Linked DNA regions of Homo sapiens: all the other regions are linked to region 2. Evidence: fine-mapped expression QTL. A gene starts in region 2. Each other region holds a variant in brackets. All regions are shown on one strand. Distances are between the middles of the regions.

Region 1 (2,759 bases), 990 kb after region 2:
ACCACTGCTCAATGAAATGAAAGAGGATACAAACAAATGGAAGAACATTCCATGCTTATGGGTAGGAAGAATCAATATTCTGAAAATGGCCATACTGCCCAAGGTAATTTATAGATTCAATGCCATCCCCATCAAGCTACCAATGACTTTCTTCACAGAATTGGAAAAAACTACTTTAAAGTTCATATGGAACCAAAAAAGAGCCCGCATTGCCAAGTCAATCCTAAGCCAAAAGAACAAAGCTGGAGGCATCACGCTACCTGACTTCAAACTATACTACAAGTCTACAGTAACCAAAACAGCATGGTACTGGTACCAAAACAGAGATGTAGACCAACGGAACAGAACAGAGCCCTCAGAAATAATGCCACATATCTACAACTATCTGATCTTTGACAAACCTGACAAAAACAAGCAATGGGGAAAGGATTCCCTATTTAATAAATGGTGCTGGGAAAACTGGCTAGCCATATGTAGAAAGCTGAAACTGGATCCCTTCCTTACACCTTATACAAAAATTAATTCAAGATGGATTAAAGACTTATATGTTAGACCTAAAACCATAAAAACCCTAGAAGAAAACCTAAGCAATACCATTCAGGACACAGGCATGGGCAAGGACTTCATGTCTAAAACACCAAAAGCAATGGCAACAAAAGCCAAAATTGATAAATGGGATCTAATTCAACTAAAGCACTTCTGCGCAGCAAAAGAAACTACCATCAGAGTGAACAGGCAACCTACAGAATGGGAGAAAATTTTTGCAATCTACTCATCTGACAAAGGCCTAATATCCAGAATCTACAATGAACTCAAACAAATTTACAAGAAAAAAACAAACAACCCCATCAACAAGTGGGCGAAGGATATGAACAGACACTTCTCAAAAGAAGACATTTATGCAGCCAAAAGACACATGAAAAAATGCTCATCATCACTGGCCATCAGAGAAATGCAAATCAAAACCACAATGAGATACCATCTCACACCAGTTAGAATGGCAATCATTAAAAAGTCAGGAAACAACAGGTCCTGGAGAGGATGTGGAGAAACAGGAACACTTTTACACTGTTGGTGGGACTGTAAACTAGTTCAACCATTGTGGAAGTCAGTGTGGCAATTCCTCAGGGATCTACAACTAGAAATACCATTTGACCCAGTCATCCCATTACTGGGTATATACCCAAAGGATTATAAATCATGCTGCTATAAAGACACATGCACACGTGTGTTTATTGCGGCACTATTCACAATAGCAAAGACTTGGAACCAACCCAAATGTCCAACAATGATAGACTGGATTAAGAAAATGTGGCACATATACACCATGGAATACTATGCAGCCATAAAAATGATGAGTTCCTGTCTTTTGTAGGGACATGGATGAAGCTGGAAACCATCATCCTCAGCAAACTATTGCAAGAACAAAAAACCAAACACTGCATGTTCTCACTCATAGATGGGAAGTGAACAATGAGAACACATGGACACAGGAAGGGGAATATCACACACCGGGGCCTGTGTGGAGATGGGGGAGGGATA[A/G]CATTAGGAGATATACCTAATGTTAAATGACGAGTGAATGGGTGCAGCACACCAACATGGTATATGTATACATATGTAACAAACCTGCACGTTGTGCACATGTACCCTAAAACTTAAAGTATAATAATAATAATAATAATAATAATCTTGCTTTCCCAGCTACAGTGAGGCACTTCTATCATGCACCATACACTTGTTAGAGAGACTCTGGGAGGAAAGTGTGTCACTCTCCTCCTGGCTTAGACCCTACCTGGAAGCTGTATAAAAACAATGCAGGGCCATGTACCTCCACAATAGCCACATATATGATTAATAAAGCTATCAATCAGAATATAGTGCAATGATTTCTAAACCATGCCTTCTACAGGGAAACTCAACAAAATGGCTAAAAGAAAATCTTTTCATAGCCCTATCTTTCCAAATCTCTCTCTCTCTCTCTCTCACACACACACACACATATATACACACAACTACACCTATCCTGTTGTTTACTTGCCACTCATAGACCATACCTTCAAAACTTAAACTTTGACATCACTAGGTACCAAAAATTCTCAGGGTATCTAACCTCAGACCCACAGAGTAAAAGAGAACTCTGTTTGATTTCTAGTCCCCATTTTCTTTTTTTTTTCCCTTTTTTTTTTTTTTTTTTTTTTTTTTTTTTTTTTTGATACAGAGTCACTCTGTTGCCCAGGCTGGAGTGCAGTGGCACAATCTTGGCTCACTGCAACCTCTGCCTCCTGGATTCAGGTGATTCTCCTGCCTCAGCCTCCCCAGTAGCTGGGACTACAGGTGCATGCCACCACACCTGGCTAATTTTTTATTTTTAGTAGAGACGCGGCTTCACCATGTTGGCCAGGCTGGTCTTGAACTCCTGACCTCAGGTGATCACCCACCTCAGCCTCCCAAAGTGCTGGGATTACAGGCATGAGCCAATGCTCCTAGCCTTATTTCCCATTTTCAAAGTGGACTGCACTAAGGACTTTCTTAGTGCAGGATGAGAAGCCAGCTATTCACAATATGCGGTAATGAAGTGGTTGATCAAATGACAGCATATTGTGCTATGGGATTCAGATGACTTGCGCACCAGAAATGAGGTTTTAGGGGACCTGGTAAATAAATATCAGGTAACCAGAATTCATCAACTATTTCCTTATGACCTTCAGTAAGTGCAAGCAGCAGGAGACACATTCCAATTCAGTTTCTGAGGTGGAAGT
Region 2 (2,759 bases):
CCTCCTGATTACTAAAACTTGAGCCTCATCACACCAAAATGACAATCTTATGTTGCATTCAAAACCCGGAACTGCTTTATCCATTGGTACTTCGCACTGGCTGACAAAGAGGAAAAGAAGAGAAAAAAGAAAAAAAACCTAAAATCATGAAGCCCCCAAATAAAGAGCAGACTCACACTCGGACACCAACAGCGCTGCAGCTCAAGGGATTAACGGTGGAAGTGAGACCTTTCCGATATTAATAGCGCCCCGGGAAACAGAAGAATTCCCCCAAACCCAGTTGACACACATTCTGCATTCAACACGTAACAGCCATTCTGCATATATCCTTGCATTTCAGGCTCCAATTCTGGTTATCAAAGTGTATTTCTGTACAGGAGTGCCTGGCCAGAGGTTTTCTGTTCTCTTTGTCTTGTGATCTGAGGGGCAGTTTCTGAGCTTAGGTTAGAGCTGTGGTTTCCAGAGAATTGCCCACGATATTTTAGCTCCGGGTTGCAGGCTCCCTGGCTCTCCCCAGCCGGCTCCATATTGCTGGGCAGGTCCCTCCCGCCTCGCCCCACGTTCCAAAAGCTGGATTTCCGGGCGGTTCCAAGACCCCACTAAATATGCCTCCAACAACCTGCCCAAGCTTGGCTGGCAATAAACGCTGAGTTAGGGCCCCAGCGACCAACCGCCCCGAGGCGCACTTCCCCCACCCCGGAAGAGGAGGGCGGCAAACTTCGGAAGGCGGGGGTTAGGGGACGAGCTCCGGGGACCACCGCCGCCTCGCCCGCCCCGGGAAGGGCCCGGGCAGCGACCCTGGCTGCAGCTGGAGGGCCACGGGGGAAGGGAGCGCTCCTTCCCGCAACACGAAGGCAGCGGCCAGGGCGCTCTCCTCCGGTGAGGGGCCCCGGAAAACTGCAGCAAGGCGACAGCGGGGACCCTCCGAAGTGTGCGGTGACGGAGGGTGGGAGGAAGCCCGAGCTCGTCGGCAACTCCGGGGGCAAATGCGACCGGCGGCGTGCAGGACCAGCTCGCAGGAGGACGGGGGAAACGGGAGTCAGGATGGCGGGGATCTCACAGGACGCCGGCCGCGCGCGGGGGTAGTGCTGCCCGGCGGCCAGGAGATGCCGGAGGCGGGGAGGGCCGGTGGCCAGCCCGCTTCCCCCCGGCGGGGCTCTGCAGAAGGAGAAGCCGCTGCCAGTGACAGGAAGAGAGTCGCGGCAGCCGTGCACACATGCACCGCCTCCCCCGCCCGAGCACACACACCCGGGGCTGCTGCTGCCTACCTACCCCGCCCGCCGGCTTCCTTCCTCTGCGGGGCCCGCGCTGCAGCGGTGGCCTCCTGCCCGCTCGGTTCCGACCGGCCTCCAGCCCGGCTGCGACCCGCCGGCCGTGCCCGATCCGTGCTTGCCGTCTCCGACAGCTAGCCTGCCGCCCTCGCCGCTGCCGCTGCTTCCTCCAACTCCGCTCCAGCTGCTGGCGACTCCTCTCCGTGCGCCCGCAGCTCCAGCGCCCGGCGCTAGCCCCGCCTCCGGCCCGGCCCCGCGCGCCCCGCCCCCGAGCCCACACCAACCAGAGCCCGCGGCTCCGCCCCTTTCCGTCCGCACGGCTCGGGCCTCCGAGCCGGCGGCTGGCAGTGGGGGAGCGAGCTCAGGCCTGGCGGACCCTTCCTGCCACCGCCCTCGCCTTCCGCCCCCCAGCCGCGGGGATGCCCCGGGCGGCCGTGCCGCGCGCTGCCTCCGCTGCGGAGTGCTCTGGCTCTACACGTCCCGGGCCCGCCCGGCTGCTGGGCGTCTCCCAGCGCAGAGGCGGAGGGGTTCGGGGAGGTCGAAGACAAGTTCAGACCTCCCTGGAGGCTGGCTGCGTCTCTAATCCGAGTGTCTTTCAGCCAACCCCAGGCTTTTTCGAGCCCCTAGCGCCCCAGCAGAGTGGCTGGGGTGGGGAGGACTCGGATTCCAGAGCTCGCCAAAGCGGAGAGGCCCTGCAATTCCTGGTCTCGCCAGCACTGCCTTCCGAGTGGGCGGAAAACCCGCGGCACCCGCCTGGCGCTCCGGGGGTGAAGGAGGGGTGAAAGGGTGAACCGGAGGGACGGGCGCCCGCAGCCTGCCGCTGGCTAACTCCGGCAGCCTGGCACCGCCGCCTCCGGGAGCCAGGCGGACCCGCGAGAAGGGAAGAGAGTTTTCTGAGGGCGTACGCTGGCTGATGGCTTCTAGTCCTGAGATGACAGAGCAAATGGAGGTCACTCAGGCAGACCACGGGCCCCTCGGCGTTCGCGGAGTCGGGGGCGGGGTTGGCGGGGGGTGGGGTTGGCGCGGGCGGGGGGGGCGGGGAAGCGCAGGTGAATTACATTGTCTCTTAAAGGTGTTAGTTTTGAAATGCATATTCTTCAAGTAATAATTACCTAAGTTGCTCCAGAAAAATTTGATGTTGGTTCAAACCTTCCACTGATGGTAAGATGGAATGCCAGCACCACGTGTGCCACTCTTTCATATTAAAACATGTGAGAATCTGCTTCCTAAAAGCTCTTTCCAGATTCTCCTTTCTGCAGCTTAAAGCCCTGCACCCGCCCACCCTGTTTGCCTAAAGCCCTTTTATAGTTCCCTCCCAGTTTCCTTGCAAGAAAACTCTTAAAAACAAACACACAAAACCTAAGCACTTGGCCTCTGTAAAACGTTGAATTTGGTGGTTTATTCTTGTGGACGTTGGAAGTAGAGGGAAGAACGTCCTAAAATTCATCGCTTATCCTTAAAAAATATCATTTTTAAAGGTGACTCACC
Region 3 (2,759 bases), 220 kb after region 2:
CCCAAGAAGAACAAGAGAGAGGGTTCTCTAGGCAGAGACAGCAGTTTGAGCAAAGCAGGAGAAGTGCAGTAGCCCATCATATTTACATGTGAGCAGCTTGGCACATAAAGTGTAAGCCAGGAGAAGAACAGGTGGAAAAAGGTACGGTAAGAAAGACGGGAGGGCAGAGGGGGCTCCAAAATGCTACTCTAGGGAAAATATATTTTGAATAATCTCCTGTAGATATAAAAAGCTGTTGAAGTTTTCAGAGTAGAAGAGTAATATTATTTGCTTTACATGTTACAAAAAATGATTCTGGAATTATTTAGCAAATTGGAAGAGTTTGCATGGTATTCAAGACTGTGAACCCTGTTGGCTGACAAGTTGGGTTGGAATCCCTGGTTCCTCACTTATAATTAGTTTTGTGAGCTTAGGCAATTTTTTTAACCTTTCTAAACATTAATATCTCTCTCTGTAAAGTGGAGCTATTATAATTATGTGCTTATCTCATAGGGTCGTTGGAAGATTAAATGTGGTAATTCACACAGAGCCTGGCATATAGCAAGCAAAATTAGGGAGTAGAAACCCAGGGATCTAATTGAATTTGGAAGTCTTTAGGACCATCCATCTCCAGCTCAGAAGAGAGCTTACTCTCTTAAATTGCCCCAGAAATCTGAGTGCGAGTCGATACTAATCTAGGTTGGCTGGTGGCTGAATTGTTTCTGGTAAAGGGAGGGAAAGAAAAATATAAAGTAAAACAGAAATAAAAGACACTATCAACTGACAAAGAATTAATGATCTTTCTGTGTGATGGAACAGTATGTACATGAACAAGATTTCAGAATATTTAAAATGCAAAGATACCAACTTGACATAGTGTTGAGTGGAAGTATATTAAGGGAATGAATACAGTTAATCTGACCTCTCTGTGGGAACCATTGCCAAATGAGTCAGTCGTGGACAGTGTGTAATTTATTTTTATAGCTTGCATTCAAGGGAAATATTCAGTGCAAGTCCAAATGTTCCACCTCGAACATCTAAATTCAACACTAGCATATGGCATTCCTACTCATACCCACCTGGAGAGAAGGTGGAGGTAGAAGAAAGGAAATGTTGTCATCGGAGACTTCTGCTCCTGGCACTTCCTCTCTAACCTTTTGTATTCACCCCATTCCAACAGATGTTAACAGGGCTCACAGCTTTCTGGACAATTTATAAGTATTTCCACTACAAACAAAATAGCTCAACTAGTGCAAATGGCATTGGAAATCTTGTTTGAAATATTGGATTTTAAAATCATAGTCAAATTAATTCTAATCGTTCTAGAAGAGATAAATGGATGCCCCTGAACAGAGTAACACAAATCTGTTACTTCTGCACATGACAGGCAAGTCAACCTACTGCCAGAACAGGAACTTCAGGAATGGTCTCAGACTCCTGCTAATACTCATGTATTTCTGCTTGGCAAGTGGTACCTCTTTGACCATGGCCCCAAGATT[A/G]GATGTTTTGCTGACTGCTTTGGGCCGCTATCAGGGTGGACTTCTTTGACGCATTGTGGAAAGACTGTGTTTTGCTTTTCGAAATTAAGTAAAGGAACTGAAGGAAAAGAGAGCATGGATATATGAGTGTGGTTGCATAGGAGGAAAAAACTCCAAACATGGTGTCCACCAACCTGCGATGGGGCAATCTAAGCAGTCCATCTGATGCACAGTATTTCTATCAATTCATATCATTCATTTGAGATTATACACTGAACTGACTGCTTGACCTTGGGCAAGTTACTTCGCCTCTTTAGCTTCAGATTATCATGCCAGGAAAGGGGGTTGGGTCTCTAAAACCTTTCTCAATTTCTAATACTAAGACTTTCTATTATTTGCCACTGCTCACAGATGCTTTAAATCAAGTAAAACTTAACCTTTTTTTTTTAAAAGAAATGTAATGTTCATCAGCTTTGCAAAAAGGAAGCAAGGAATGAAATAACAAGAACAACTTACTGAGATACTGCATTTTAACTTGTTGGGGATGAGTAGGAATTAGCAAAACAAACATGTCCTATGGGAAAATTACAGAGAAAGTGATTTCTTATAGGATAGAAGGGTGGGGGCAGCAATGCCTCTAGGTGAAATCTGGCCCACTGCCTATTTGGTGACTGAAGTTTTATTGGAACACAGCCATGCTCATTCATTTACATTTTGTCTATGAAAACAGAATTGAATGGTTGCAACAGAAGTGGTATGGTCTTCAAAGCCTAAAATATTTATTCTCTGGCTCTTTACAGAAAACGCTTGCCTACCCCTGTGATAGGAAATCAAAGTGGGTTCTTTTAATTAGTATTTGTGTAGCTCCGTTCTCCAAATAAGAGTGTCCTGTTTTGGGAAAAGTTTGGAAGCTCTTTTCTACTTAAGTAATCAGTAGGGACCTGGGTCCTGACCCTACTTTTAAAAGGATGCAGCCACTGTATCTGTACTTCTGCTTTTTTACGACTTCTTCAGTAGCTTTGGGGTTTGAAATGACTCTACCCTACAAATAACTATTTTCTGGGATAATGCCAGGGGTGGCCATTTTAGGTAATAGAGGTTTTGGAGCATAGGAACTGTGTCTTTCTAGAAGGAACTGCCCAGCTCTCTGCTGCTGTGATGTAGAGGGCTAGCCTTATGCAGGGCGTGGCTGAGGGGAGGGCTGGTGTAGCACACAGTGGCGGCTGCCTTGCTCTAGGCCCTTCTCTTTCTTGTACTGTAGAGAATTCTCTAAAGCACAGATCGTAGTCCATGTCTTCTCTG

Direction of the effects. Positions count from the first base shown, and alleles are read on the strand shown. Sizes are in standard deviations (SD) of each study's normalised expression. Not every link is listed here.
In carriers of allele G in region 3, the expression in macrophages of the gene that starts at base 1,466 in region 2 tends to be lower than with A alone (moderate effect, 0.54 SD a copy in Nedelec 2016).

The links. PIP is the estimated chance that this variant, and not a neighbour inherited with it, causes the effect.
Region 1: its variant is the best candidate, but not a certain one, in a credible set for the expression of PIK3R1 in whole blood (INTERVAL, PIP 0.60).
Region 3: its variant is the best candidate, but not a certain one, in a credible set for the expression of PIK3R1 in macrophages (Nedelec 2016, PIP 0.87).

What each region holds. Positions count from the first base shown.
Region 1 is chr5:67,223,653-67,226,411 of GRCh38, reverse strand. No RefSeq gene overlaps it. Among named protein-coding and RNA genes, the nearest start is that of CD180, 28 kb to the right of the region's middle. The variant A/G (reference allele first, on the strand shown) is at 1,543.
Region 2 is chr5:68,214,463-68,217,221 of GRCh38, reverse strand. It overlaps PIK3R1 (phosphoinositide-3-kinase regulatory subunit 1), which reads right to left and starts at 1,466. Exons shown (of 16, transcript NM_181523.3): 1 at 1,273-1,466. RefSeq lists silencers at 750-1,849, 2,070-2,289.
Region 3 is chr5:67,991,279-67,994,037 of GRCh38, reverse strand. No RefSeq gene overlaps it. Among named protein-coding and RNA genes, the nearest start is that of LINC02219, 200 kb to the left of the region's middle. The variant A/G (reference allele first, on the strand shown) is at 1,479.